7 separate regions of the Homo sapiens genome follow, and all the other regions are linked to region 2. Evidence: fine-mapped expression QTL. A gene starts in region 2. Each other region holds a variant in brackets. All regions are shown on one strand. Distances are from middle to middle.

Region 1 (4,313 bases), 86 kb after region 2:
CAAACGCCCCTCAACCAGGGGCTAACTGAATATCCTACATGTAGTGCCAGGATCTGAATGTGTCTGTGCCTACGTAATTCATAGGTTGAACCCTAATCCATAATGTGATAGTGTCAAGAGGACACCCTTTTTAGGAGGTGATTAAGTCAGGGATTAATGCCCCGTAAGAGTGGCCTGAGGGAACTTGTTTGCCCCTTTCCGCCTTGTGGGGACACAGCTAGGTGGCACCATCTATGAAGCAGACAGCAAGCCCTCGCCAGACCCCAAATCTGCCAATGCCTTGATCTTGGACTTCCCAGCCTCTAGTACTGTAAGAAATAAATGTTTGTTGTTTATAAGTTACCCAGTCTAAGATACAAAATAGCAGCCCAAATGGCCTAAGACACACGGTATATCCACACAGAGGAATGCTGTGTCGTTATCAAAAAAGGAAAAAGGAGGATCGGAGGATATTGTTCCACTTACAGTTACATTTTTTGAAAACAATAAAGTTCTTATTCTGCCCACTGAAAAGGCCTAGAAGCAACAACCAACACAGTAGCTATGAGGCCAGATTTTTGTTTTTAATGCAGACTCCTGTGCTACACTTTCACCCCGTCAAGTTCAGAATCAGCAGTCCTGAGGCTGAGCCCTGGACTCTGTTTTTGCTATTGCTGATGTGTCTGTTTAATCATCAGGTGACAATACTGCATCTGAGCTTTAGGAATCACTAAACAATTTTATCAAGAAGGTAAAAGATACGTGTATGTTTTGTTTGTTCCACTGTTCCAGCCTATCGGATACAGGACAGACCGTATGCAACAGATACACATATTGCAAATAGTAAGGGCCACATATTGCAATGAATTAAGCGATAAGTTAAGTTTCTTTTAACCCACAGGTATTCTGTCCATCTGTTGTTGGTTTTTTTTTCCTTGCAATTTATTTGTCAAACAAATCAGGCTCCAGGTGGTTGTCCTGCATCCCTGTGGAGTCATTTGCGTGCTCCTGGGTCCTCCCTATTTCCTGTAAAGTAGCAGTTGGTTCTAGAGGTTTGCGTGGCCATGTACCATGTGCTCCCTCATGGAGAAGCACACGCCACACCAGCGATAGTGGTGTCCCTCCTCCCCCAAAATCATTCCTGAGCCACCGATCTAAACAATTACACTGCTCTTATTACCAGTTTCCTCCTCAAAGGGAATCGCAGGCATCAGTGCTCAGAAAAGCTAAAAACAATCTGGGGAAGCCCAGAATCCAGAAGGCAGAATGAGAAAGTGACCCAATGCCAGGAGCCCTTTAAATATCTGCCCTGCAACCTGCGATCTGGAGCACAGGTTGTATGGACATGCCTTCTTTCGCCACCCCATGGATTGTTTGGTTTTGTTTTGTTTTGTTTTTTTTCTTCTGGAGAAAGGGTCTCACTCTGTTACCCAAGCTGGAGTGCAGGGGCATGATCATGGCTCATCGAGGCCTCAACCTCCCAGGCTCAAGTGATCCTCCCACCTCAGCCTCCCGAGTAGCCGGGACTATAGGTGCGTTCCACCACGCCCGGTTAATTTTTGTATTTTTTGTAGAGTTGGGGTTTTACCGTATTGCCTAGGCTGGTCTGAAACTCCTGGGCTCAAGAGATCCACCAGCCTTGGCCTCCCAAAGTGCTGGGATTACAGGCGTGAGCCACCAAACCCAGCCCATGGGTTTTTTTTTAACTCCCTCTTTTACTTACCGTGGGATTAAAAATCAAGGTGATGTGTTTATGGTAGCCCACTGCGGTGAAAGAAACTTGAGGCAAGATGTAGTCATACTGGGATCTGGGGAGTGTGGAGTCCAGAAGCACAACATAGTTCTGTGCACACATGGGAAGAAGTTATTTTTACAAGGACAGCTCTGGCAAAGCAAATGAAAACTAAAACCTAACGTATGGCTGTGATGTAAAGAACTTTATGTTTTTAAAGAAATCCCCAAGACTACACATCCAAACCAAGGTTGCTGCCTTCAAAGTATCAACCTCAGCGGGCTATTCCATCAGTGGCGGGCATG[T/C]GTCCCCAGTGTCTCTGAGACTGTGGCTTCTGATAAGGCTGTCAGAGCCTGCAGCCTTTTTATGAGTACCCAACCTTGACAATTACGGTCCTCTGAGGATCTGACTTTATGAAACACAAAAAATTATTATGAGCCAATTCTGATGAGGGAGGTACGTGATACAACTGAGGATCCACAACGGGGCTGACTTCAAAGGGACGATGCTTGAGAGGCTCGTAAGCTGGCAAATCCTAAAAATACAGCATCCCTGGAACGGCACCAGGGGCAGCCACAGCTCTGTGTGCTGAGCACCGACCAGCTGCCAGGCACCATGCACATTGCATGAGACCCATCACAGCTCTGTGTGCTGAGCACCGACCAGCTGCCAGGCACCATGCACATTGCATGAGGCCCGCGGCTGCTTTGCTTTCTACCACTGGCAAGGTCGGGATCATCACCCCGTCTTATAGACGAGGAAAGTCAAGCACGAAGAGACTAAGAGTAACTTGCCCAAGGTCACTCAGCTAAGAAGGCTGCCACACATCTATGAAGGCTCTGAACTCAGGGGAAGTGTGACCCCAAAGCCCAAGATGTTTCCGCATCGCTGTAGGAAGTGACTATTTCAACACCCCTGGAGAAAGAGGAGGAGAAAATTCCGTGACAGCCTGTTTCATTATTTTGCAGCCATTTTCCACAGAGAAAGGCCAGAGTAGATCATCTTCACGGCAGGTGGTAAGGAGCCAGGAGAGGAAACGTCACCCTCTAGGCTCACACTTGACATCCTCAGGCTAAGACCACCAGAAAAGAACCAAATTCTTTGCAAAGTTTGCACTCCCCACACCAACTACAAGTTAGCTCTGTCCAAATAGAATTGATAATAAGCACTTTATAATCAGTAAATGACGGCCAGAATAATGGCTGAAAACTTCCCAGTTCCAAGGAGGGAGACATCCAGATTCATGGAACCCAAAGGACACTGAAAAGGTGGAGCTGCAAGTGTTCTACACGACACACGTTATAATCAGATTATCAAAGACAGAGAGAACGTTCAAAGCAGCAAGAGAAAAGCAACTCATCTCATTCAAGGGATCCCCCATCATGAGGAAACTGTATTTCCTTAAACTCAATAGCAGAATGTTAAATAGAGGAATTTTTAAAAATTACAAGGCATTTTTAAAAGTGGACTTCTTAGCAGGAAAGCATGGGGTGATATGTTCAAAGTGCAAGAGTCGATCATGCCCAACAGTAGGCCTTGGTTAAATAAATCATGGCGTTTCCTAGTTTATGGACTACTGTCCATAAAAATCATAGTATGAAAGATTTGGCCAGGCACGGGGGCTCACGCCTGTAATCTCAGCACTTTGGGAGGCCGAGGCAGGTGGATCACGAGGTCAGGAGATCAAGACCATCCTGGCTAACATGGTGAAACCCCGTCTCTACTAAAAATAAAAAAAAAAAAGAATTAGCCGGGTGTGGTGGCACACGCCTGTAGTCCCAGCTACTTCGGAGGCTGAGGCAGGAGAATGGTGTGAACCCAGGAGGCGGAGCTTGCAGTGAGCCCAGATTGCGCCACTGCACTCCAGCCTGGGCGACAAGGCGAGACTCCGTCTCAAAAAAAAAAAAAAGAAAGATTTGATGATGAGGAACAGATTTGTGATAAATTCTTCATTGAAAAGCACGGATTACAAAACAATGTACAAAACAGTGTCAGTTTTGAATTATTAAAATAAATGTCTATTTATATTTATACATGCATGCGCACACGTGCCTGAAAAAAGACCCAAAGGATACCAATCACCGTGTTAGCAGTGGCTATTTCTGGATGATGGGCTTATGTCTTCTTTTTCCCAAAATCTCCTGCCATGAATATGTATTCTTTTTGTAAACAGAAAAACAATGAAGAAAAAATAATCCCTACAGAACCCAACCTCTTTTGATTCAGAGAGCGTATTTCTGCAGAGTGGTATTTAGGGAGAAAAGGAGAGAACTGTGCTTCCTTAAACTAAACAGCAGAATTATTAAAACAAAGGCAGAAGGTAGAATCCGGCCACAGGCATTACCTCGCCGTCTCTGAGCAGTGGGGGGAAATGGAAGAACAGGGACTGGCCAAGGGAAACTGTCTGGATTGGATTGTCGAGGTTTTCGCTTTTGTAAAGCTTGACCTGGAGGGAGAAACAAAGTCAGACATGCTTTGAAACTGAAACACAATCAATATTTCATAGCAGACATCCTCAGGACAGCCGCTTTCTGGGTGGGTGTCTTTGGAAACATGGATATTTGAAAAAGAAAGCTCCCTCCATAGACATCACACATCCCTC
Region 2 (4,313 bases):
AATTGATAACACCACTTTGCATCGTTTTGTACTCAACTGCTGGTGTTATAAACATGATCTTGACCAGGATTTCTCAGCCTCAACACTGCTGACATTTTGGGCCAGAGAATTCTCCAGCGTGGGGGGCTGTCCTGTGCAACGTAGGATGTTTAGAGGCGTCCCTGGCCTCTACCCACTAGGTACCGGCAGCACCTCCCTGCCCCCATTGTGACAATCAAAACTATGTCCAGAGATAGCCAAATGTCTCCTGGGGAAATAAATTGCCCCCTGCTTTAAGAACCACTCATCTGGACAAACTCAAAGTACCAAAAGGTAGACACCCTGCTAATCAGACGACCGGAAAGACTTTATTCCCAGCCAGGAAAACACGTAACATTCACCCCAGAGATGGCACAAGAAAACCATATTATCTTTTTCTTGTCTTCCACCCAATTTATGCTAAGCAACCCAGGAGTAGGCTATACCACTGTGAGCACATGAAGACATCTGGCCCAACCTTTACAATTATTGCCTTCAACTCTCCAGTGACAAGTGAACAAAATCTACAGCAGCTGCTGCCTTGAAAAAAGACAAAATATATTATTCCTACCAGCTCAAAATTAAAATGTAGCCGTCTTAAAACACGAGCATTGCTCCTGAATGCCACATGCATGAAAAACCGGGTATGCACTGGATTGGACAAGCAGACTCCCAAGCTGGAACAGACAGAAGGGCTTTGAGGGAGGGCAGAATGTCAGGTACCGAAAGCAGGAATCCGTGAAGAAACCCAAACTGGTTTCCATTTACAAGCCCTAACACTGGGACAATGAGAATCCGTTTCACATGGTAGAGCAGTCAGCCTGGTACACCACGCTGCCGTTCCCCCAAGGGGAAACCAGAGGTAGGCTCTGTTACCAGTGGATTTCGAGTTGACTCGGGGATCCCTCCTCGCCACTGGAATGGGGGAGCCAGGAAGTTGTGGAGCAGCTGCGATCCCCAAAACTCAATTCGCAATCTACGCAACACCCACCCCTTTCTGGAACTCAGAGGTTCTCGCCCGGTGATCGCAGGCTCAGCATCAGAATCACCTGCGTGGGGCGGAGTGGGAGCGGGGCGGTGGCGGTTAAACACGCAGTTCCCGGTCCCGCCCCCAGAGGTTCTGACCCCGGGACTGAACCTCCGCATTTTACCAAAGGCCCCAGGTGATTCCCACTCAGGCTGAAGTTGGAAAACCACTGCTTTGGCAATTTTCATTCCTAACTCGGAGACCAAGAAAAACCTACAGGTTTGCAGCTGGCTCTGAAATAACTGCGGCTTCTTTCCGGGAGCATCTGGGGCCGCCAACGGAGAGCTCCCGGTCCTCCGAAAGGGCCAGCCGAGCTCAGGCCGGCCACTCGCGGAACCTCGGCAGGGCCCAAGGTCGGCCCCGCGGTCCCAGTCCTGGGCTCCGGGCCCGTCGCGGCCCCCACCGAACCCCGCCCAGCCTCTTCGGCCCACGGGGACCCAAGAGACACCCGGCCCCGTGACGCGCCCGGGCCCCAGCCGCCCTCCCGGCGAGGCCTCCTCAGGCAGGGCCTGTCAGCCCGCGTCCCCCTGTCCGGGTCACAATGGCAGCTCGCGACTGGGAAACAGTTGCCTCGGAAGCGGGAGCCCCGGGCCGCAGCACCGTCCCCATCGCCCCCTCCCGGCACGGACCTTCTCCAGGGACGCGTCCATGGCTGAGGCGGCCGGTGGTGGCCTGGCGGTCCCGGGCTCTACTTCCTCCTCCCGCGCCCCGCAGCTCCTTCCACGCTGGCAGCGCTGACGTCCCCCGCGCCCGCGGCCGGCGGGGCGGAGAAGAGGAGGAGCTGCCAGGCGGCGCCGCGGGCTGCCGAACCTGATGGTTGAGAGGCGGCGGGGCGGGGCCCCGTAGCGCTGGGCGGAGCCCTCTGGGATTCCGTACCTGGGCGCCACGCCGGCCCTCCCTAACGTGCGCAGGTGAAGGGGGGAGGATGCCCGGTGGATTGTTCACCAAACTCTTTCCAGCAGCCTGTTGCAATCATCAAGGTAGAAGTATAATAATCACAAAGTACTATTCATGGAGTGAAAGGCTGGAAATACTAGTGACGCACCTCACTTCCGGGCCCAGGCTTCCAAGTCTCCCGCCTCACCTCCCGCCGGCATCCCTCGAGAATGGAACAGGCCATTCGCCAAGGAGGCGGTGAGCGAGTGGGCAACCTTGCGCATGCGCAGGACTCGCAGCGTCCTCGGCGCCCGGGGACTTGGGGGTTTTGGGGTTGGGGGCTGCTTAGTGAACGCTGTTCAGAGAAGGCACTGATCTAAGCTGAGGTGTTGTCTCAGACCTTACCGCCGAATTCTAGACGGAAAAAATTGTTGTAACAACCGGTCCAGCCTCTTTCATGTCACAATTATCACTTGTCAGGTAATGGGTAGTAGTAATAATGATAATATTAATACATCAGCTGCTGTTCTTCCATTTTCCTATTTCAGCAGCTCTAGGAGATCATTATCCCCATTTCGCAGTGCCGATCTAGGTAGGATTCAGACCCAAGCCCCATGAGTCCACATACTGCTTCCACTCCTACTTTACTTTAAATGTTTTAAAAAGTTAATTTTTTATTAATTTTTTTATCTTGTTAACCGATGAACTGAAGAGAAAAAAAATTAAAATCTCATTTTAATAGAGAAGGTAGGGGTGTCTCACTATGTTACCCAAGCTGGCTTCAAACTCCTGGCCTCAGGCGATCTTCCCGTCTCAGCTTCCCCAAGTGCTGGGATTACAGGCATGAGCTACCACGCCCGGCCACTTTTGCAATTTTACTGCAATGTGTTTCGAACGAATGGGGAGGGCGTACATTTGCTTAGTAGATTCCTCCCACCTTAATGTGGGAAACTGATATAGACTACCACAGTGGCAATCAATGGAACACTTCACCTCTGCGATGACGCTACAACCACAATCTTACTCCTTTTCTCTCCTGTTTTATACTCTTCGTCCCGAAATCTGTGTAAACAGGGTCACATTTTCAGCGCAGTAACTCCATGTTTTGAGCTATCTACGTTGTATTTGGTAAATTGCCTGGTTATGTTAATAAAATTATTTTCTACCAAAAAACCCTTGTGTGCTGGTTTAGACTGTACTGTGGGGATTATTCTGACTCTCTAAAGAGCTTTCCAAACAGAAGGAAAGATAGATTTATGTCTTTCAAGAATTGAAGATTGAATGTACCCCTGCTTGAGCAAAACAAGTCACTTTTCCAACGTGTTATGAAATTTTTCAAACGTAGAAAAGTTTAAACAGTTGTACAGTGAACAACCATATACCCACTACCTAGATTCTACAGTTAATTTTCCCTATATTTGCTTTAATCACATATGCATCCATATATCCATCCATCGATATATGTTAGTACATTTCACCTCTGAGCACCTCAGCATGGGTATCATTCAAAACTAGTAAATTTTACTAAAGTCACCTCCAAGTTTCTGTGGATTACATTACAAAGTATAATAGATTCTACAAAACAAATACTAGAGAGAAAAGTTAACTTTACTGTTTTAAAAGTAGACTTTGAAAACCCAACATGAAAAAGTGGAAATAATCAACCGTATTATTTATTATATTTAGCCAAACATTTATTGACTGCCATCTTGGACAGTTGTGCTGGAAATAGTATGTAAAAGAATAAGAGGCTGGTTCAAGAGCAGCCTGGCCAACAGAGTGAAACTCCGTCTCTACTAAAAATACAAAAAATTAGCTGGGCGTGGTGGCAAACACCTGTAATCCCAGCTACCTGGGAGGCTGAGGCAGGGGAATCACTTGAACCCCGGGGGCAGAGGTTGCAGTGAGCCGAGATTGTGCCACTGCGCTCCAGCCTGGGCAATAAGACGAGACTCCATCTCAAAAAACAATAAAAATACAAATAAGAGGCTGGGCCGGGCGCGGTGGCTCACGCCTGTAATCCCAGCACTTTGGGAGGCCGAGGCGGGCGGATCACGAGGTCAGGAGATCGAGACCATCCTGGCTAACACGGTGAAACCCCGTGTCTACCAAAAATACAAAAAGAAATTAGCCGGGCATGGTGGCGGGCGCCTGTAGTCCCAGCTATTCTGGAGGCTGAGGCAGGAGAATGGCGTGAACCCGGGAGGCGGAGCTTGCAGTGAGCAGAGATCGCACCACTGCACTCCAGCCTGGGCGACAAAGCGAGACTCTGTCTCAAAAACAAAATATAATAAAAAATTTAAAAATTTAAAAAAGGCTGGGCGCGGTGGCTCATGCCTGTAATCCCAGCACTTTGAGAGGCCGAGGTGGGCGGATCACCTGAGGTCAGGAG
Region 3 (4,313 bases), 59 kb before region 2:
TCTACCTGTGAGTGGTCATCTTCTGGGTGTGGGACCCCTTTCTGGAAGGCCTCGGTCTGGTCGGTGTGCTGAGGGCTGGGAGCCCCTGGGTGTCCCTCAGTGCTGCTGGCCTCGAGGGTGATCTGCTCCGGCCCACTGGATAGGCGCTCCACCTTTTCTAAGTCTTCAATGTGACTGACTGAGCTGGTCTCACTCAAAGCATCTGAACCTCGCAGGGACCTTTTAAAAGGCTTCTGGCCTACAGAAAGGGCAGACAGACTGCGCTGAAACTCAGTGAGGATACTTCTGCAACACAGGCTGTCTCTGCAACAGATAATTGCTTTATTTCACAACACAGCTTCAGCAGAAACCTTTACTGGCTCTGAGGTGTTTTAGGAGATGAGAAAACCGAGAGCTGCTAGCTTGACACCAACATGCTCCCCAGGCCGGGGAACTCTAAGGTCATCTTCATTAGGAAACGCCCAGGAGGGTAAACACCACAGTGACAATGTCATCTTTCAAGACCCCAACTTCCCCTTAGCGCACTACCGTGGGATTTCTTCAAGGCTGAATCCCACGGCTACCAAGATGGTTAAAGAGATGGTAGTAGTTGGTCTTAAGAGAAATAGACCTCTGGAGTTCAAGAACCCAGAAAACAAACGCAAGTAACAGTCAACAGGGGAAACCTGTTACCTGAACTCGGTGCAGAGGCGTCACTTACCTGGAAGCCTCTGCTTGGTGCGACTGCCCGAGGGCGTTGGAGGCAGCGTGACTCCTGCACCTTGTGCTTTGTAGACATATATGGGTTCTGTGGACTCCAGAGAGCCTGCGGGAGAGGAGAGGGCTGGGTAGAAGCTACAGGCACAGGCTGCCCTTGAAGACACCACCTGCCCTCACACAGCCTTGCTCCCCAATAACCTCCTTCCAGCCACTGAGCCTGCCACAGACTGGTGGAGAGAAGGGCACTTATGAATGTGCCGTGAGCTAGAGAAAGCCACCTCACAGGGCCAGTACCGCCAGCATCCGCCAGCAGTATGGCGTAAGCACACCCAGGGAGCCAGGCCCAACAGGGAAACGTACTGTAGCCACAAGAAGTGGGTGCCTTTTTGCTGAAGGCTAAGGCTTGGCAGATTAGAAATCAGATTATCTTTTGCTTTCATGACAATGGAGTCATCGTTTCCTGGGAAAGAATGAAGGAAGGGGCTCGAGTGTAGGAAATTATTTCCTTGGTAGAACAGGAAAGGAGTCACGGACTGTTAACACCCTCCCCACATTCCAGCGGCTGAAACGCTTGCTGGCTGCCTGGTTCAAAATAAACCGTGCCAGCACTCCATGCTTCAGTCTCTGCATTGCCACTTGCAAAAGCTGTCCTCTGCTGGGGCAGAACACACATGAAGACAAGAAGTATTAACCCTGAACCAAAATGCCCAAGACACAGCACCCTGAGAGTCTGCACGGCTGAGTGGGCGTGTCCTCATGGCCTTGCGGTGGTGACAGCTGTGGAGAGTGGGTAGCTGCTTCCTTGCTGTTTCAGCCGCCAGGGTGCGGTGGGGAGGAGGACAGGGCACACCAGAACTTGTCTCCTCAGATGTCCGGCCCACACCCAGTGATGAAGAACGGGAACCAGGGCGGGATTCTCAGTGGGAAGTGTTGGGACCCAAGGGCATTTGGTGAAACCTCCCAAGGTCAGCAAGACCTGGGAAGAGGCTATGCCGTCCTACCTGCTGTCAAGTTAAAAGTTCTTCCCTTCTGTAAAGCCTGGACCGGAGAAAACCAATTCAGCACGGAGCCCACTACAGGGATCTGCCGCAACACCCCCTGCAAGACAGGACCAGAGTTCAGGGCCACCTGGCCTCACGGCGGCTCCCCCAGCCTGCTGCCCATCGGGGGCCTCACCTCTTCCAGAAGCCGTTCTTCACTTGCCTTCTGCAGCTCCACTTGAGCTTCCTGAATGCCTTTCCGAACCACTTCTGTCATG[T/G]TTTCCAGAAGCTGTGGCAAGACCAAGAAAGACATTACTTGTTTAAGGTTCTCACCTGGGGCCCAGAAGAGCTAGTAACACAGCACTGAGGGAATTTTTCAAAAGCAGGTCAATGAAATCCTGCATTGAAAAGCCGGCGTAAAACGAACAGAAACTCAAAGACAAGCAGATAACATGCTCATAGAGGCCTAGGCAGACACACCTTGGTGACCAGCCTCATTTGCTACGTATTCTTGAAAACAGAGAAGTCATAAAGTCAGGCTGGAAAGAAACCTTAAGGAGTCCACCCAGAAAGGAATGAAGCTGGCTTCTCGGCCGCATGTCCAATGGCTCGTGTCTCTCTCCTTTCAGAGCAGTCTTACCTTGGTCCCTCTTCTCTCCTTTTGAGTGATTTTTAGGGAAGTAATCATCTGTTTGGAGGATACCTTATCAGCCTTGTATCCTGGTCCTCCATGCTAAGGGACCCACAGCAGTAGGTCTATTCCTGGTGGGAAGTGCTATAGGGAAGGGGTGTAGGGGGAACCACACATACAACAGCCCATTTCATTCACCCTCAGGACACAGCTCCAGAGCAGAAGTCCTCCCTGACCTTGGTGGCAGGGGTGAATGTGTCTGCCTGAGTGTCCAGCTACCCGCCCTCTTCTCTAAGGCAGGGTTACTACACAGCGTGGCTATGTGGATCTTTCCCCCTGAGCTTGTGAGATCACTGGGGCATGGGCTGTGTCAAACCTACTTGGCATCTCTGACACCTGGCACAAGGCCCAGCTTACAGGAAACATTGACAGACTTTGAGAGACAACGAACAGACATCCCAAGGGCAGCTGCTTTCCTCGTGGCCCCTGCTGTTTGGTGGGACAAAACTCAGAAGAGGAATGAACACTGATGGGTGCTACGGACCCTCGAGTTCTCCTCTATCTCCCGGGCTGTGGCCGCAATGGTCTCCACGAGCTCAGCAGCATCGACGTTGTCGCTCGCCATGCCGACATAAAGGCAGCTCTTCATGCTCTTATACTCAGGGCCTGCAAAGGTAACGAGACAAACTTGAGTTTCTCAGTCCTCTGTCATGGGTGAGACGTGGACCTACTCTCCTGTTCAGGGTCCTGACCACACACAAAGGGGTCTCCTCCATGGAGATTCTAAGGGCGGAGAGAAAGGCCTGGCAAGGCTGCAGAAGGGGAGGGAGGTCTCAGAACCGCATCTTCGCCTGGAACCCAGCCCGAGAGGCGCTAGCCCGCTAAGGGATGAGCCGTCGTCTTCAAAGCCGGTTACCAAGTGTCCTTCCAAACCCCACAGCTGACTTACAAAGTAAGCAGTTACCTATTTTAAAGGTTAGGTCAGATTCCAGTTCATTTAACTTCTTCAGGAGTCCAGCATGGATGTTTTCCCCTTCGGGATCTGATTTCAAACTGCTCTTATCATCATTAGCATGTTCATACCTAAAACAACATCAAACCACAGCATTTCAGCTTAAAAGATCAAATGTCTCTTCTGATACAGGATTAGAAACCTCTAAATATTAGCAAGACAATGCAGTGGAACCAGTGGGCAAAAGAGCTACTGCGAGTGTCTCCAGACCACAAACTTTCTGGAAGTGTGCCAGGAGTAAAGAGAAAGTCACAGGAAAGCCTTTTTTTTTTTTTTTTAAAGCAGGGTCTCACTTGGTGGCCCAGGCTGGGGTGCAGTGGCATGATCTTGGCTCACTGCAACCTCCACCTCCTGGGCTCAGTTGATCCTTCCATCTAAGCTTCCCGAGTAGCTGGGACTACAGGTGTGCACCACCACCTCTGGCTAATTTTTGTATTTTTTCTAGAGATGGGGTTTCGCCATGTTGTCCAGGCTGGACTCAAGCTCCTGGCCTCAAGTCATCTATGCTCCTGTTGGCCTCCCAAAGTGCTGGGATTACAGGCATGAGCCACCGTGCCCAGCTGAAAGCCTAAGTCTTTAGTTCCATACAAGGTCTGGAAGTCTCATGGGCAATACAAAAAGAGGTTTGCCTCACCTCTGAAGGCGAGAAAGCAGCCATAGGACTGCACCCAGTTCTCTCCCCGAGAGCTGGGTTCTTTTTCTTACTGATTTGCAATTCTCTATATGCCCTGGATAGTAACCATTCTCAGTGAGTGATATATACCTGTTGGCATCTTCTCCTAGGTAGCTGAGAGTCGGCACCTACAGACAGAACATTCAGCAACTCCCCTCCCTGAGCGCCACGCTGGCCAAATTGCCTGCTTGCACTGTGCTTTTGTAAATGCCCAGAAAACCGAGTTGCATTTTCGTTAAGCATATTGTGACTACACGTTCATCTTGGATTTCTAAGGTGGTTCAGAAAATGACCCACTCATGTTCTTTATACAGAAAA
Region 4 (4,313 bases), 160 kb after region 2:
TGTCACTTCTCTGAGCCTTGGTTTCCCCATGAGTCAAAGGAAGCAAGTAAACTCCAGCTGATGAGACTGTGTATGGCAAGAATGTCGCATGTGCTCAGGGCAGGGTCAGTGCTCAATAAAACCAGCTCTCATCTCTGCAAACCAGAGAACCCTGGCCAAGGGGGACTATGAACATTCCAAATGAAGAAAAACAGTGGCTCCTAGACTCATTGCCCAGAGGAGGACTATGAACATCTTAGCAAGTCTCCCCCGAGGTTTTCCTAGAATAGATGTCTCTACGTAGTTAATAAAAACATACATTCAAGTTTTGCAGCTTTTTGCTCCACTTTACACTTTAAGTTGAACGTTTACACTTCCCATTCCAAGATCTTCAGAAACATGTTTAGAAAGAGAAGAATATCCCAACAACAGTCTGTTTAACCTCTTCCCCTAATGCTGAACTATTGTTGCTTTAAGCATACATTTTCTGTGTGTGTTTCAGATGTAGTTTCCTTAGGAAAGATTCTCTATGCTGTGCAACAATTCCCCATGTGTCTCTTACATTTCTGCACATCTTGTGTCAGCGTTTGTTCTAGACCGTCTTCATAAGGATGTTTGTATAGCTAATAGCATTGGAAGATAGGGCTAATATAGTAGAAGACAGATTTATTTGCTGATTAGGATTATAACGATAATATCTCCAGACCAGGCACAGTGGCTCATGCCTGTAATCCCACCAATTTGTGAGGCTGAGGCAGGCAGATGACCTGAGGTTGGGAGTTTGAGACCAGCCTGGCCAATATGGTGAAACCGCCGTCTCTACTACAAACACTTAAAAAATTAGCTGGGTGTGGTGGTGGGTGCCTGTAATCCCAGCTACTTGGGAGACAGGTGGGAGAATTGCTTGAACCCAAGAGGCAGGGGTTGCAATGAGCTAAGATCATTCCACTGCACTCCAACATTGGTGTGACAGAGCAAGACTCTACCTCAAAAAAACAAAAAACAAAAAAAGAAGAAGAAAAAGAAAAAGAAAAAGAAAGGATTATAATGACAATGTCTCCCTCCATCCAGGGTAAAGGTTGAAAAGACCAAGATTCCTAAACTTGGGGTTCCTCAGGTGTGATGCAAATCCACTGCAGGCACAGATTCTACCTGGATCCATCCGTGTATTACTCATTTCTCACACTGCTAATAAAAACATACCCAAGGCTGGGTGTGGTGTCTCACACCTGTAATCCTAACACCTTGGGAGGCCGAGGTGGGCAGATTGCCTGAGCTCAGGAGTTTGAGACCAGCCTGGGCAACATGGTGAAACCTCATCTCTACTAAAATACAAAAAATTAGCCAGGTATTGTGGTGCACACCTATAATCCTAGCTACTCAGGAGGCTGAGGTGGGAGAATCGCTTGAACCCGGGAGGTGGAGGTTGCAGTGAGCCAAGAATGAGCCACTGCACTCCAGCCTGGGCGACAGAGTGAGATTCTGTCTCAAAAAAAGAAAAAAAAAAGGCTAGGCATGGCTGTAATCTCAGCACTTTGGGATGCTGAGGTGGGCAGATCACCTGAGGTCAGGAGTTCAAGACCAGCCTGACCAACATGGAGAAACCCCATCTCTACTAAATATACAAAATTAGCTGGGTGTGTTGGTACATGGCTGTAATCCCAGCTACTCAGGAGGCTGAGGCAGGACAATTGCTTGAACCTGTGAGGCAGAGGTTGGGGTGAGCTGAGATCCTGCCATTGCACTCCAGCCTGGGTGACAAGAGTGAAACTCTGTCTCAAAAAAACCAAAAAAACAAACAAACAAAAAACATACCCTAGACTGAGTAATTTATAAAGGAAAGAGATTTAATTGACTCAGGGAGGCCTCGGGAAACTTACAATCATGGCAGAAGGGAAAGCAAACATGTCCTTCTTCACATGGCGGCAGCAAGGGGAAGAATGAGCAAAAGAAGAAAAAGCCCCTTATAAAACCATCAGATTTTGTGAGAACTCATTCACTATCATAAGAACAGCATGAAGATAACTGCCCCCATGATTAAATTACCTCCCACTGGGTCCCTTCCATGACACATGGGGATTGTGGGAACTACAATTCAAGATGAGATTTGGGTGGGGACACAGCCAAACCATGTCAACCTGTGTCACCCTTGAGGGACTTGGGGGTCAAAGGGAACTGGTGCAGACATGAAGCTCAAGCTTCCTGTTGTACCATGAAAAATAAAGTCCTTTATCTCTCAATCCAGAGTCTCATGTCTTCTGCCCACATCCATAAAACTCGCTAGCCTCCATGTAGGATAATATCTTAGACCAGCACAGTTCTTGACACTCTAGAAGTGAATTTGTTGGATCAAAAAGCATGAACAATTGCTAAAACTCTTAATATGTCTTGTCAATTAGCTCTCCAAACAAATATGAGTCATTGCCTGAAATCTCTTTTGTCCTCAGGAAGGGATAGAGCTGCTTGACTCAGATCTCCCAGGTGGCCTTAGACCGTAAT[G/A]TCTTCCTTTCGTGCAGAGCTCTTACCATCCTAAGCCACTACTCCTACCTAATATTCTATAAAAAGCTTTTTCTCCCTACCCAGTGTCTCCAATGAGCTGACTTTCTTTTCTGGATTACTCTTTTATGTAATAAAAAGTAGACATGAGGGTCAAACAGAAAGGGAAAAAGGGGAATTTGTTTAATTTCTACCAAGTGCCAGGCATAGTACAAAGAACATTTAGATAAGGCAGAAGGCATTAATTATTTTTATCTACCCAGAACCCCCTGCCCCACCTAAGCACCCCAGCCCCTGACCTGGCCACGTGGGTGGCTATGTGACCCGAGCTGAACCAATCAGAGTCCTTCCCTGGGATCTTTTTCACATCATAACCACATGAGAAGGTCTCCCATTATGAAACAGAGAAGCTTGTTGGCAGCCATGGTTCTAGCCAAGGATGGAAAAAACAACCAAAAAAAGAAAAGAAACAAAAAAAACCCACCATGGTAAAAATATATATATATAAAAATGAAAAAGATATGACAGACAGACAGACATGGGGAATGGTCTCTTTCCAGTTGCCCCTGCCACTCAACTGCTCTCCTACCTTCCTGGATTTGGTTATGAGAGTCAATAAATTATCCCCTTTTATTGCCTAAATGACTTCCATATGAGTTTCTGCTCCTTGCAACCAACATAATCTTGACAATTAATAGTAGCTAGCATTTTGTGAGTGTTTACTGTGCCATGCCCATTAATACACCTAATCCTCTCTACAATTGGACAGGTAAGGTGCTTTTAGTAACCTCCAATGTACAAAAAGGAAAACAAGTTGGGTGAAGTGAAATGACTTGCTCACAGTCGCTGGGCTAACAAGGGGGCAGAGTCAAAGTTTAAAGCCAGAGCCCATACTCTTCCCTATTGTATAACACAGACATGCTGTCTCTGTTCCCAGTGCTGGGGAATGCAGAGAACTGGGGACTGAAGGAAGAGCAGGCGTTCAGGTAAGCATTAATCAGGGGACCTTCCACAAGGGAAAAGGGAGTACTGGCCCAGTTGAAGTCCAGCCAGCACTCAGCGTGGTCAAGGATGGGGTGGTGCTCTCTCCAGCCATTCAAGGTGCTGAGAAAAGAACAGAACTTTCATCTGAGGAATACAAGCCTTTTAAATTATTAGGCCCAGAGAGGCAATAGAACGAGATAGCAATCATGTCCTACATACCCCCTTTGAGCTCGGTATTCATTTCTTAAAACTGCTTGCCATTGCCACAAGTAGCTATAAATTAATCTAATAATGCCCCCACTGGATGCTATAACCCACACCTTATAGCTTAACAATGTATAGCCAATCACTCATCAATGTTATTTCTGAAAACCAGTGAGAATTCCTGACAACCAACTGTGTACCAGCCCACTCCATGTCCCCCTTTTTTGCCTTTATAAATCCACTTGTAACTGCTGCTAATTGGAGTGTATATTCAGGGAAACTTGAATCTACGCTCCCTGGCTACAGTCCTCAAGCTTGGCCCAAACAGAGTCTTTACTTATATTAATTTTGCCTCAGCTTCTTCCTTTTAGGTTGACAGTGCTACAGGCTGAATTATGTCCCCCTAAAATTCAAATTTGAATAAATGTTCAAATATGAATTTGAGGCCAGGCACAGTGGCTCATGCCTGTATCCCAGTACTCTGGGAGGCCGAGGTGGGCAGATCATCTTAGGTCAGCAGTTTGAGACCAGCCTGGCCAACATGGCGAAACCCCATCTCTACTAAAAATACAAAAATTAGCCAGGTGTGGTGACGCATGCCTATCATCCCAGCTACTTGGGAGGCCAGGATAGGAGAATCACTTGAACCT
Region 5 (4,313 bases), 490 kb before region 2:
AGAAAAACCCCAAATAAACCAATTAGTAAGTGGACAAAGGACATGAACAGGCATTTCACTGAAGAGATTATACAGATGGACATACAAATAAGCCCATAAAAAGATGTGCAACAGCATTAGATATAAAGAAAATGCAAATTAAAACCACAAGATGTCACTGCACACCTATCAGACTAGCTAAAATAAAAAATAATGATAACACCAAATGCAGGTGAGGATGGGAAGAAACTGAATCCCTTGTGCACTGCCAATGGGAATGTAACATGGTACAACCACTCTAGAAAATAGTTTGGCAATTTCTTATAAGGCTAAATATGCATTTGAAGCAACTCAGTAACTGCACTCCTGAGCGTTTATCTCAGAGAAATGAAAACTTATGTTCACACAAAAATTTGCATAAGAGTATTCATAGCAGCATTAAGCATAATAGCCTGTAACTGGAAATAATCCAGATGTCCTTCAATGGGTAAAACAAACCATGGTACATCCATACAATGGAATATTACTTGGCAATGAAAAGGAATGAATGGCTGATACACACAGCAACTTGGATGGATCTTGAGAGAATTACGGTGAGTGAAAAAGCCAATCTCAAAAAGGTTATATACTGCATGATTCCATTTCTTTAATATTCTTGAAATGACAAAATTATGGAAATAGAAAACTAATTGTTGTTGCTAGGGGTTGAATGGGGCAAGGTAACTGTAACTATACAAAAGTAGCAGGAGGAACCTTTGTGATGGAACTGTTCTGTATCTTGACTTTGTTGATAGTCACACAAATCTAAATATATGATAAAATTGTATAGAACTAAATACACACACACACACACACAGACACACACATAAATCTGGTGAAATCTGAATAGGATGAATGGATTGTATCAATGTCAATTTCCTGTCTTTGATACTGTATTTAGCTGTCCAAAATGTCACCATTGGGGTAAAATGGGTGAAAGGCATACATAGATCTCTGTATTATTTCTTACAACTGCACGCAAACTACAATAATCTCAAAATAAAAAGTCTTTTTTTAAAAGACAGGCCACAAGCTGAAATTTATAATACACAAACATACAAAACAATCGGGAACAAAATACAAAAAATACCTATGACAATGACAACACAATAGAAAAAAAAAGGGCAAAAGGGTACGACCTCAGGATTCACAGAAGAGGAAATTCCAGCTAATAAACCTATGAAGAGATGTCTAACCTCATTGGAAATCAGGAAAACACAATAATAAAATAACAATGAAATACTACTTTACATCCATCAGATTGGCAAACTTTTAACAGTCTGGAAAGATCAGGTTGGCTGGTGAAAATATAAGGAAATGGTGATTATTACCACCTGCTGGGACAGCCATAAATTTATAGAGTCACAGTTGGATAGCAATTTCTCAATGTTTACTGAAGTTTAGTATGTGCATACTGTCTGCTTAGCACTTTCAATTCTAGATAAAAACCCTGCAGAAACTCTTGACCCAAAAAGGCATTTATACCTGGATGGCCATGATAGCAATGTCTGGTAATACTGAAAAATGGAAAACAACCTATTATCAGTGGAAGATTGGTTGAAGAATTTGTGGTATATTCACCTATTAGAAATACTTTGAGCAGTTAAAAAATTAAAAGAATTGATCTACATGTTTCAACATGCATAAATCCTGAAAACATGTTTAGTGGCAAAATAAGCTACCAAAGGAAATGTATAACAGGATATCACAGATTGTTTATGACTATGCACATAATACAGTAAAAGCAAATGTGGAAAAGATAAATACATATTAATTCCATGACAAGGGTCATTTCTGGAAAGAAAAAGGACTGAGTAGGAGTCTCCAGCTGAATCTTTAAGGTTTTGTTTTATTTTTCTAAAAAGGACTAATACAAAGATCTTAGGGCTGGGTGCGGTGGGTCACAGCTGTAATACCAGCACTTTGGGAGGCCAAGGCAGGCGGATCACCTGAGGTCAGGAGTTTGAGACCAGCCTGGCCAACGTGGTGAAACCCTGTCTCTACTAAAAATACAAAAATTGGCCTGGAATGGTGGTGGGTGCCTGTAATCCCAGCTACTTGGGAGGCTGAGGCATGAGAATCGCTTGAACCCAGGAGGCAGAGTTTGCAGTAAGCCGAGATCATACCACTGCACTCCAGCCTGGGTGACACATTGAGACCCAGTCTCAAAAAAAAAAAAAAAAATATATAT[C/ATATC]TTAGCATTGACCAAATTTGGATGATGGATACAAGGTGTCAGTGTTTGGGGTCGGTTTTGTTGTTTAGCTTTTTATTTGGAGAGAATTGCTGATTTATATCCGTTTGTATGTCAGAGAGGTCCTAAAAAACCTTCACCCAATGTTCCCCAGTGATGACATTTTGCATAACTGACCTTATTCAGATTTCACCAGTTTTACATCCAATTCATTGGTGTGTGTGTGTATGTGTGTGTGTGGTTCTGTGCAATTTTATCACATGTACAGATTCAGGTAACCAACCACCCCAATCAAGACACGCAACTGTTCCATCACACAGATCTTTCATTTGCTCAAGGGTGTTAGGTCTTCATCTATGCTGGCTTTGTCAGAGGCATTTGAACCAGAGTGACTCCATCTTGAATAAGGGTAAAATAAGGCTGAGACCTACTTGGCTGCAACCCCAGGAAGTCAGGCATTCTTAGTCCCAGGATGAGACAGGAGGTCACAAGATACAGGTCACAAAGACCCCACTGATAAAACAGGGTGCAATAAAGAAGCTGGCCAAAACCTGCCCAATCCAAGATGGTGTCAGAAGTGACCACTGGTCATCCTCACTGCTCATTATACACTAATTATGATGCATTAGCATGCTAAAAGACACTCCCACCAGCACTATGACAGTTTACAAGTGCCATGGCAACTTCTGGAAGTTACCCAATATAGTCTAAAAGGAAGAGGAATTCTCAGTTTCAGGAATTCCCTGTGCCATTTCCGGAAAACTCATGAATAATCCACCTCTTGTTTACCATACGATCAAGACATAACCACAAGAATTGTCAACCAGCAGCACTCGAGACTGCTCTGCCTACAGAGAAGCCATTTTTTTAGTTTCTTCTTTTTTAAAAAATTAGAGACAGGGTCTCTCTATGTTGGCCAGTGTAGTCTTGAACTCCTGGCCTCAACCAATCCTCCCGCCTTGGCCTCCCAAAGAGCTGGGAGGTATGAGCCACCATACCTGACATTCTTTGGAATCCTTTTTTTTTTTTTTTTTTTTAAGATGAAGTCTCACTCTGTCGCCCAGACTGAAGTGCAGTGGACCAATCTCAGCTCACTGCAACCTCAGCCTCCTAGGTTCAGGTGATTCTCCTGCCTCAGTCTCCTGAGTAGCTGAGATTACAGTCGCCCACCACCACACCTGGCTAATTTTTGTATTTTTAGTAGAGATGGGGTTTTGCCATGTTGGCCAGGCTGGTCTCGAACTCCTGACCTCAGGTGATCTGCCCGCCTCGGCCTCCCAAACTGCTGAGATTACAGGCATGAGCCACTGTGCGCGGCCTTGATTCTTTACTTCTCTAATAAACTACTTTCACTTTACTCTATGGAGTTGCCCCAAATTTCTTCTTGCACAAGATCCGAGAGCCCTCTCTTGCAGTCTGGATCAGGACCACTTTCCAGTAATAGTTTTATGCTTCAAGTTTTTTTTTTTTTTTTAAAGCATACACAAAAAGAACCCCAATTTTGCTTGATGATGCTGAGGCATCCCAACATTGGAAAGTCCCAGGTTCCAATGGATGGCACAGCCTCACAGCTAAGGCAGTTGTGTCAACAGCAGCAGGAGCTGGGGTGGGGATGGGGGTCAGGATTGGGGAGGGTTCCTTGAATATGTTCTCCCAAAGTGACATCTTTTGGGGAGCATGTAAGGTGAGAAGTTACTACGATTCATTGTTAAGGCTACACTGAAAATATATTAGAGGAGGCCACGTGAAAGCTACAGTCTCAGAGTGTGAGTAAGACCTCAGCAGTCAAACGACGAGGCAAGGGAAGGTGGTTAAAGTGGGGGGCATCTTTCTGTGTGTCTCCACAAAGCCCAACTCGCACAGGCTCCTGCCCAGCTTCTCATTCACTCTCCACACTGAACCTGACCACACTTCTGTGATAACAGTGGTTCAAAGGATGCCTTCAAGCGTATTTCAGGCCAGGTGATGTAGCTTATGCCTGCAATCCCAGGGCTTTGGGAGGCCAAAGCAGGAGGATTGCCTGGGACCAAGAGTTCAAGACCAACCTGAGTAACATAGTGAGATCCCCGCCTCTACAAAATATATATATATTTAATTGATTTAATTG
Region 6 (4,313 bases), 100 kb before region 2:
CCATCAGATCTCTTGAGACTTATTCACTATCACGAGAACAGTATGGGGGAAACCTACCCTATGATTCAAATTATCTCCCACCAGTCCCCCCCCAGCAACATGTGTGACTTACAGGAGGAGTACGATTCAAGATGAGATTTGGGGCCAGGCGCGGTGGCTCATGCCTGTAATTCCAGCACTTTGGGAAGCTGAGGCCGGTGGATCACCTGAGGTCAGGAGTTCGAGACCAGCCTGACTAACATGGAGTAACCCCATCTCTACTAAAAATACAAAATTAGCTGGGCACAGTGGCACATGACTGTAATCCCAGCTACTCGGGAGGCTGAGGCAGGAGAATCTCTTGAACCTGGGGGGCGGAGTTTGCGGTGAGCCGAGATCTTGCCATTGTATTCCAGCCTGGGCAACAAGAGCAAAACTCTGCCTCAAAAAAAAAAAAAAAAGTGATTTGGGTGGGGACACAGAGCCAGACCATATCAGAGCTAGAATAAATGTTGAATTTGTTGAGGCTGCCTGGCATAGAGCATCATGTGATAGTTGTCGATTTTATATAAGTATGTAGTAAAAGGGGCTTGGTTTATTATATTTAAATTCCTTCATGACCTAGGTCAGTTTACAGGCTTGCACCATAATTGTGTATTGTGTTGGGGTGTGATATAAGGCACTAATCTGGACACCTTGAACATGCGTATATCAGATGAATTTCCATCCCAAAATAACATAGTTGTATTTTTTAAATCCTTTTATTCTTTTTTTTTCTCCCTTTGTTATAGGTGAATGCATCCCGGCAGGGTATTGAAGATGCTGAAGAAACAGCAACTCAAACTTGTGGTGGGACAGATTCCACGGAAGGATTGTTTAATATGGTTAGCAGTTTATTAATGAAAGTGGAGATGAAGTTTATCATAAAGGGTGGAAACAGCTAGTGCTGCTCATCTTTGTTAAGGCTTTAGATTGAAAGAATTAAAATAGTTCAGCAAACTTGAAAACGATTCCTTATATGAGTAATTTGCTGCCATGTCATTTAGCACTTAGCATAGTTGGTCTATTTCCAAGGCTTTGAATTTGGGTTTGGTGAAGTATGTTTCACTTTTGTTCTTGTAACTTTCAGTGTTTGTTTTTGTAAGCCAGATGCTGTCTGTGAGGGCGTGGTTAATAGAAAAGCATACCTGTTTAATTTCTGCATTTTACCACTTGTACACTTTATAGCATTACTTCTTTTGGGTGGTATCTGAAGTTGGGTTCAGTGGAAGGAGAGTCTGAGACAGGGATTCAGGTGCCCTTGGGACAGAGGGTGTCAGGGAGCAGAAGAGGGCAGGGGAGCTAAACGGGGGCCGGGTCTCACTTGGGAGGTCGCTACAGCCTGCTCCCACCAGGCATTCTGGGGCATGGATTGGTCTACAGAGTTTGTTCCCAGCTTGAGACCAAGGAGATGTCCTTTTCTGATGCCTTGTCAATCAGTCATTGGTTCTAAGGGGGAGGGGCTGGAAAGAGTGCAAGGGTGGTCCTGGCTCCTTTCTGCTCAGGGCAGCTCTGGAGAAAGTAGGCGGCTGTGAGCTATTGGCCGCCAGTACTCACAGCAGTGGGGAGGTGGATATCCCGACCTGCAAAAGGGGGCCCGGCACCAAAAGCACCCGCCATGGTGGGCACCAGGAGCAGAGGTAGGGGGCATCTGTGATTTTTGCATGGATAGGTCTCATTGGGTCTTCTCAATGAGAATCAGAAGCTGGTGCTGTGAGTCTTGGCTTTTATTTTAAATTTCACTGGTGGTTCTGATTCACATCCCTGAATGAGACCCCTGCCTGGAAAGGTGTCTGCATTTCTTTCTTTCTTTTCTTTCTTTTTTAATTTGAGACAGGGTCTCACTCTGTTGCCCAGGCTGGAGTGTGGCAGTGTGTGATCTTGGCCCACTCCAGCCTCGACCTCCTGGGCCCAAGTGATCTGCCCACCTCAGCCTCCCCGAGTAGCTGGGACTACAGTGTACCACCGCACCCAGCTACTTTTTTTCTATTTTTGTAGAGACAGGTCTCACTGTGTTGCCCAGGCTGGTCTCAAGTTCCTGAGCTCAAGTGATCCTCCTGCCTTGGCCTCCCAAAGTGTTGGTAATTATAGGCGTGAGCCACTGTGCGTGGTCCATTTCTTTGTTTTAGTTTAGTTTTTTTTTTTTTTTTTTGGTGGGGCACAGAGTCTTCCTCTGTTGCCCAGGCTGGAGCACACGAACTCGGCTCACTGTAGCCTCCTCCACCTCCCAGTTCAAGCT[A/G]TTTTCCTGCCTCTGCCTCCTGAGTAACTGGAATTACAGGCGTGCACCACCATACCTGGCTAATTCTTGTATTTTTAGTAGAGACAGAGTTTTACCATGTTGGCCAGGCTGGTCTCAAACTCCTGACCTCAAGTGATCCCCCCACCTCTGCTTCCCAAAGTGCTGGGCTTATAGATGTGAGCCGCTTTCCCCAGCCTCTTTGTTTTATCTTTTAAGGGAAATAATCACTTATGACAGTTTTCCTACTAAACCACTTTGACATTGAATTTTTTAATGTTAGTATTTACTTTTTGTCTTCAAAGGATGAAGATGAAGAAACTGAACATGAAACAAAGGCTGGTCCTGAACGGCTCGACCAGATGGTGCATCCTGTAGCCGAGCGCCTGGACATCCTGATGTCTTTGGTTTTGTCCTACATGAAGGATGTCTGCTATGTAGATGGTAAATCACAGTAGCTACTGTTTATTGAACACCTGCAGTGTACCTGGCTTTGTGCTGGGCATTTTCCATCCATTATCTCTAGTAATACTAAAAATCCTGTAAAAATATCTATTGAGTATGAGTTTAAGATGATTTAAAGAGGTCAAGTTACTTGCCAGTCACATAGCTTGAAAATGGGACTGGGATTCTGGCTGAGTTATATTTGTCTTCTGTCTTTTCACTGATTGTTGTATTGAAAGATTATATATGGAGTTTGGCCAGTTTTAGATCAAATTACGCTCAAGTTGCTGAATGCACTGAAGAATGATGTAGGGTGCACTAATATATGGTGCTCCGTTATGTATTGAGTTTAGAGGGTCTTTGCCTGGCACCATTGTTGTGCCAGTGTTAGTACTATATGTGCTTCTTGACTTCATGGAACTTTAAAGGCTTTGCCAGGCGAAAACAGAATTTTTTTCCATTCACATTGCTAAGATTTAAGATGAGCTCAGTGAGTCAGAATAATAGAACTGGAATCTGAGTTGACTGCATTACTGTTTTAACGGTCTTGCTGTTATAAAAATAATACATGTTGATTAGAGAATTTGGAAACTACAGGAAAGGATAAAAACAATTTAAATGGCCACATTTCTACTCTTCAGAGAACCATTGTGAGCATTTTGAAGTTTGACTTTTTTCCCTTTTCTGTTAGCGTCTGTATATGTAGGAGAGTATTTTTTAGTGAATTTGGGTGTCACACTAAACACAAGTGTTTCATAATCTGCCCTTTACATGGATGCTGAAGATAAACATTTTCTCATATCATTGCCTGTTTTAAAATAATTGTTATTGAATCCCAGCACTTAGGCCAAGGTGGGAGGATCACTGAGGCCAGGAGTTCAAGACTAACTATCCTGGGCAACATAACAAGACCCCATCTCTAAAAAAAAAAGTCGTAATAATAAATGTTGTTGGTCACATGGGTTTAACTGTCTTTTACTGTTTTCACCATGATAAGTAACAGTTATAATGAACATACTTGTGCCTATATATTCAGCTGTTTACTAACAGTAAAATGATCGGATTAGAGGTCTTTTGCTACACGAATGATAGAATTGCTCTTCAGAAGGGTTTGCATTTCTGACCTTGCCACAGTGTGTGAGGTGAGGGCCTGCTTCCTTGCAGGTGTTAGATTATTATATTCAGAGGAAAATCTGTGTAAACTAAAAGTAGCATTTTGTTTTAATGGTATTTTAATGGATAATGTCTGTCTTTCTTTTTTTTTTAAATAGCCACGGTCTTACTCTAACCCAGGCTGGAATGCAGTCGCACAAACATGGCTTACTGCAGCCTTGACCTCCTGGGCTCAAGCGGTTCATCCGCCTCAGCCTCCCATGTAGCTGGGATCACAGGCGTGCCACCATGCCTGGCTAATTTTTTGATTTTTTGTAGAGACAGAGCTTCCCTGTGTTCCCCAGGCTGCCCTTGAACTCCCGGGCTCCCTCTCACTTTGGCCTCCCAAAGTGCTGGGATTGCAGGCAGGAGCCACTGTGCTTGGCTGGATAATGTTGTTTTTTAATGGTGTTGTGTTTATAAAAAATATGGCAGATGAAACTTGAAAATATGTCTTTATAAA
Region 7 (4,313 bases), 220 kb before region 2:
CATTTTGATTTTCTTATTCAACACAATGTGATATTTTCTTGAAAGGGAGACTCCAATTGAGGGGCCAAGAGGTGGGTCAGCTTCACCAAGATAAGAGTAATTACTGGCCAAAAAAAAAAAGAAAAGGAAAAGAATTTCAGATAGAATAAGTGGATGCAGCCTGTCTGCTTGAGCTTTGCTGCTAATTACCAGACTGCTATCCCTCATTCAGAGGGAAGAACTCTACTCCAGCTGAGTTTCAATTTAAAATATGAGGTTGGTGATCAAACACAAGCTTCACCCAAAACAATGACGTTGGAAGAGATGGCTCCGATGAATGAAGGTAGCTGTGATGGAGCTTAATAAAATGAGGGTTTCAAGGATGTGGTATTTCTGTTTTCATTTCACAATAATAAAGTCATGAATGAGAGAAAAATATGCTGGTTACATTACTTTAAAATACCTTGGCAAAAATCTAATTTCTTATTGATTAGTTTCCCATCGAAGGGAAGGCCTGTAGATAAAAGAAAATTGACTGCTGAGAATTCTAAAATAAAGAAAGTAAATGAGGGAAGATGTTTAAATTTTTAAGAGGAAGAAAAAGTATAATCAATGTCCCCAAATATGTCACTTGTACAAGTACTGCTGGGACTGAGAGCTAAGCTGTTCTTGATCTGATTGACTTACTTTCATTGACACCAATATTTAAAAAATGTAAAATCAACAGACTGGCTTTGGAAAGCAAAGCCCATAGAAAGATGTTCCAGGTACCACGGAAAGTAAAAGCATGTAGGAGTGAGAATTATTCCTGGAAATTGGGTAGGGAATTATTTGATAGGTTACTGTATGCTCGTGACTTTTGGTTGCAAGCAATAGGAACCTGAAAACTGGTTTAAACCAGTGGTTCTCAATAGGAGGTGATTTTGCCCCTTGGGACAGTTGGCAATGATTGCAGCTGTTTTTGGTGGCCATGACTCGTGGGTGAGAATGGCTCTAGAAGCCAGGAACATTGCTAAACATCCTGCAATGTACAAGCCAGCCCCCATCCAGCCAAACACTATCAATAGTGTTGAGGTTCAGGAACTCAAGCTTAAACAGAAAAAGTAGAATTTGTTGATTCACAACTGAAAAATCCAGGATGAATCTATTTGGATCCAGATGTTCAAACTGACATCAGAAGTGGCTTTTTCTCTCAGGCCTGCTACTTTCCTTGTAAGATTTATTTTTGGGGAGTTTTTTTCCCCTTGTAGTCCCAAGACAGGCTTCAGCAGCTCAGCTGAAGGCTGCTGCCAGGTTAGGGGTTCTAGTGACAGAAGAGCTTATCTTTCTCCTTGCTTCTCCCTAGGAATTCTGAGATATACTCTTATCTTTTTTTTTTTCACCTTTTAAGTTCAGGGGTACACGTGCAGGTTGTGTAGGTTTGTTACATAGGTAAACATGTGCCATGGTGGTTTGCTGCACAGGTTATCCCATCACCTAAGTATTAAGCCCAACATCCCTTAGCTATTCTTCTTGATGCTCTCTGTCCCCCACCACTCTGACTGACAGGCCCCAGTGTGCATTTTTCCCCCCAGGTATCCTTGTGTTCTCATTTTTCAGCTCTTGCTTATAAGTGAGAAAATGCAGTGTTTGATATTCTGTTCTTACATTAGTTTGCTGAGGATAGTGACTTTCAACTCCATTCATGTCCCTGCAAAGAACATGATCTCATCCATTTTTATGGCTGCATAGTATTCCATGGTGTATATGTACCACATTTTCTTTATCCAGTCTATCATTGATGGGCATTTAGATGGATTCCGTGTCTTTGCTATTGTGAATAGTGCTGCAGTGAACATACAAGTGCCTGTATCTTTATAATAGAATGATTTATATTCCTTTGGGATATATACCCAGTAATGGGATTGCTGGGTCTAATGGCATTTCTGCCTCTAGGTCTTAGAGGAATCACTACACTGTCTTCCACAATAGTTGAACTAATTTACACTCCCAGATTGACTCTCATTTAACTAAACT[G/C]TCACATGATCATCCCTGAACCACTCCTTGTGAGGATGGAGTATTCTGATTGACTAGGCTTGGGACACACATCCATCCTTGACTCTGGGGACAGAGGTGTTGAATTGATACCAGTTACACCAGTGTGCTGGTGGGCTGAGAGGGCAGGAAGGTGCTTTACCAAAAGGAAAAATGAAGTGCTATATTCAGAATTAGAGAGTAGATGCTGAGCAGCCAACAATCAGATGCTCACTACATTTGTTTTCTGCAAAAATTCTGAGGAGTGATGGTGTGGGGGCCACTAGGACCCTCTACAACATCTCTCTCTCTTCCCCTGTCATCCAAAAAACCTTCAGAAATACACCTATTGTAGTCTCTCTCTCTCCTAACACTCACGTTGTTACATTGTCATAAACGTATTTATCTACCTATCCACCTGTTCCCTTAGGCTTTTCAAGACCTAAACACAGGGATGATGTCTAATTCATCTTTGTGTTTCCAACACCTTGCATAGAGTAGAGCACCTAGTAGGCTAAAGTGAAACTCTTCTTTTTCAGTAGAATGTCAATTTGATCCTTTTAGACTATCCATCATGCATTAATCAGATGTTTATTGTGCAGCTACTATGTGTCCCCCACTCAAACCCTGGGGAATAAGCAAGAAACAGGATGCAAGTGTGGAATGTCACATATGGTAGGGTGGCAGCCATCTTACGAGTGATCCAAAGTGAGTTACACAATGCAAAGGGAAGTCCTGAGAGCTATGGAAACCACAGCAAGGGTCCACTTTGGAGTGGGAGTCTTTACAAGCGATGCTCAAAGGGGGCAGCCTGGAAGATAAGTGAGATTTAGTTTTGCAAAAGGAGCGGGTGGAAGAGCTTTCTATGCAAAGGGAATAGCCTGTGTGAAGGCCTTGAGATGGTGGTGGGGTCCTCAGTTCCGGTATTATGTCCTGTTAGCAAGATAGGGTTACATTTTAGGTCTGATTTAAGGAAGGGTGGCCTCAGCTCTCCACTTTGATGGGCCTCTGAGACAGTGATAATTCAATTGCAAGGAATAGAAACCCATTCAAAGAGATTAAAGTGGATATGAAATTTTACTGTCTGGACACACAAGGCTCTCTGGAAATCCGACGTATGCAGCTGGACCTCATGGGACTTGGAATGTTGTTAATCAGCCGCTTTCTCCATTTCACTCTCTGGAGCTTACCTCTGCACATCTGCTCCATTCTCTTCTCTGCAGACTGGCGCCTGCCGTTGGAATCTCAGGGTTTGCTGTTTCCCAGTTTCTACTTGCCCAGGGCCCTGGGACTTCTTCTTCATGACCTTACAGCTCCAGCTTCTAATGCACTCTGATCAATTGCGCCTCTATCTGAATGTAAGAGTTTCCCAGGTGTAGGAATATGATAGGTCCGGGTAGTAGGAGGTGTACACTCTGGTCCAATCAGATGTGGCCAGGTGAAGGTGTCAGGTGGGTGCCTCTGCTGTGTGTGGGCTAGAGAGCATCTCAGAGAAGTCATGCAGGTAGGGAAGCACCTCTCTGGTTCTTGGTGGAGCTCTCTGGAGTGGTATGGCTAAACACTGAAGAAGATGATGAGGATGTCGCTGCTGTGCTCAAAAGGGCCCAGCCTTCTTGTCATAATCGTATACTTGTTATCCTATTTAACACTCATGATCATCCAGTGAAGGGTTAACACTATTCTACAGAGGAGACAACTGAGATACAGAAAGGTGGACAAACATTGCTTCAAAAGTTATTTTTATGAAATGTTAATTGTCTCACATATCTGGATTCCAACCTGAGGGAAAATGTCACCCCAGATAATAGCCTGGAGTTCCATAGCCAAAGTAATTATCGTTTCTCTCTCCTTCTCACTTAACATACTCCAGCCACACAGGTATTCTTCTGGTTTCCTAAATACTCAGCCTTTGCATGTGCTGTTTTCTCTGCCAGAAATTCTCTTCCCTCCCACTCTTTACTAGGTTAACTTTTCCTTATCCTTCAGGTTTTAGTGTAGACATTACTTCCTCAGGGAGATTTTTCCTGACTCCCTGAGTAGAATCAGTTTCACCCTCTTTATTCTGGCTTATGGCACTCTGATCTCTTCTCTTAATGTTTTATCAGAATTTTAATCTTACAAGTTTTGCACAATTACCCTGCCTAGACTGTTAACTCCTTGAAGGAGAGGAATCACATCTGCCAGGCAACTAGTAGGTGACCAGTAAATAATGATTAGATTGGCCAGGTGCAGTGGCTCACACCTGTAATTTCAGGAGGCCGAGGTGCATGGATTGTTTGAGGTCAGGAGTTCGAGACCAGCCTGGGCAAATGGACAAACCC

What was found. PIP is the estimated chance that this variant, and not a neighbour inherited with it, causes the effect.
Region 1: its variant is fine-mapped to the expression of PDXDC1 in whole blood (TOPMed, PIP above 0.99).
Region 3: its variant is fine-mapped to the expression of PDXDC1 in whole blood (INTERVAL, PIP above 0.99).
Region 4: its variant is fine-mapped to the expression of PDXDC1 in whole blood (TOPMed, PIP above 0.99).
Region 5: its variant is fine-mapped to the expression of PDXDC1 in whole blood (INTERVAL, PIP above 0.99).
Region 6: its variant is fine-mapped to the expression of PDXDC1 in whole blood (TOPMed, PIP above 0.99). The same link has a PIP of 0.9 or more in CD4 T cells and lung.
Region 7: its variant is fine-mapped to the expression of PDXDC1 in whole blood (INTERVAL, PIP above 0.99).

Annotation. Positions count from the first base shown.
Region 1 is chr16:14,886,605-14,890,917 of GRCh38, reverse strand. It overlaps NOMO1 (NODAL modulator 1), which reads right to left. Exons shown (of 31, transcript NM_014287.4): 28 at 4,056-4,157; 29 at 1,703-1,822. Among named protein-coding and RNA genes, the nearest start is that of MIR3179-1, 13 kb to the left of the region's middle. The variant T/C (reference allele first, on the strand shown) is at 2,017.
Region 2 is chr16:14,972,582-14,976,894 of GRCh38, reverse strand. PDXDC1 (pyridoxal dependent decarboxylase domain containing 1) reads right to left here and starts at 1,869. Exons shown (of 23, transcript NM_015027.4): 1 at 1,675-1,869. The coding sequence starts at 1,695. RefSeq lists an enhancer at 1,788-2,551 and a silencer at 2,709-3,003.
Region 3 is chr16:15,031,941-15,036,253 of GRCh38, reverse strand. PDXDC1 (pyridoxal dependent decarboxylase domain containing 1) reads right to left here. Exons shown (of 23, transcript NM_015027.4): 18 at 3,275-3,393; 19 at 2,855-2,976; 20 at 1,876-1,968; 21 at 1,701-1,797; 22 at 701-805; 23 at 1-238. Among named protein-coding and RNA genes, the nearest start is that of NTAN1, 22 kb to the left of the region's middle. The variant T/G (reference allele first, on the strand shown) is at 1,958.
Region 4 is chr16:14,812,225-14,816,537 of GRCh38, reverse strand. No RefSeq gene overlaps it. Among named protein-coding and RNA genes, the nearest start is that of NOMO1, 19 kb to the left of the region's middle. The variant G/A (reference allele first, on the strand shown) is at 2,479.
Region 5 is chr16:15,463,243-15,467,555 of GRCh38, reverse strand. The region is part of intron 1 of MPV17L-BMERB1 (MPV17L-BMERB1 readthrough); the gene reads right to left. The region is part of intron 1 of BMERB1 (bMERB domain containing 1); the gene reads right to left. Among named protein-coding and RNA genes, the nearest start is that of BMERB1, 31 kb to the right of the region's middle. The variant C/ATATC (reference allele first, on the strand shown) is at 2,210.
Region 6 is chr16:15,073,108-15,077,420 of GRCh38, reverse strand. RRN3 (RNA polymerase I transcription factor RRN3) reads left to right here. Exons shown (of 18, transcript NM_018427.5): 10 at 771-863; 11 at 2,560-2,698. It also overlaps a transcript of PDXDC1 not described here. Among named protein-coding and RNA genes, the nearest start is that of RRN3, 19 kb to the left of the region's middle. The variant A/G (reference allele first, on the strand shown) is at 2,258.
Region 7 is chr16:15,196,780-15,201,092 of GRCh38, reverse strand. No RefSeq gene overlaps it. Among named protein-coding and RNA genes, the nearest start is that of MIR3180-4, 44 kb to the right of the region's middle. The variant G/C (reference allele first, on the strand shown) is at 1,996.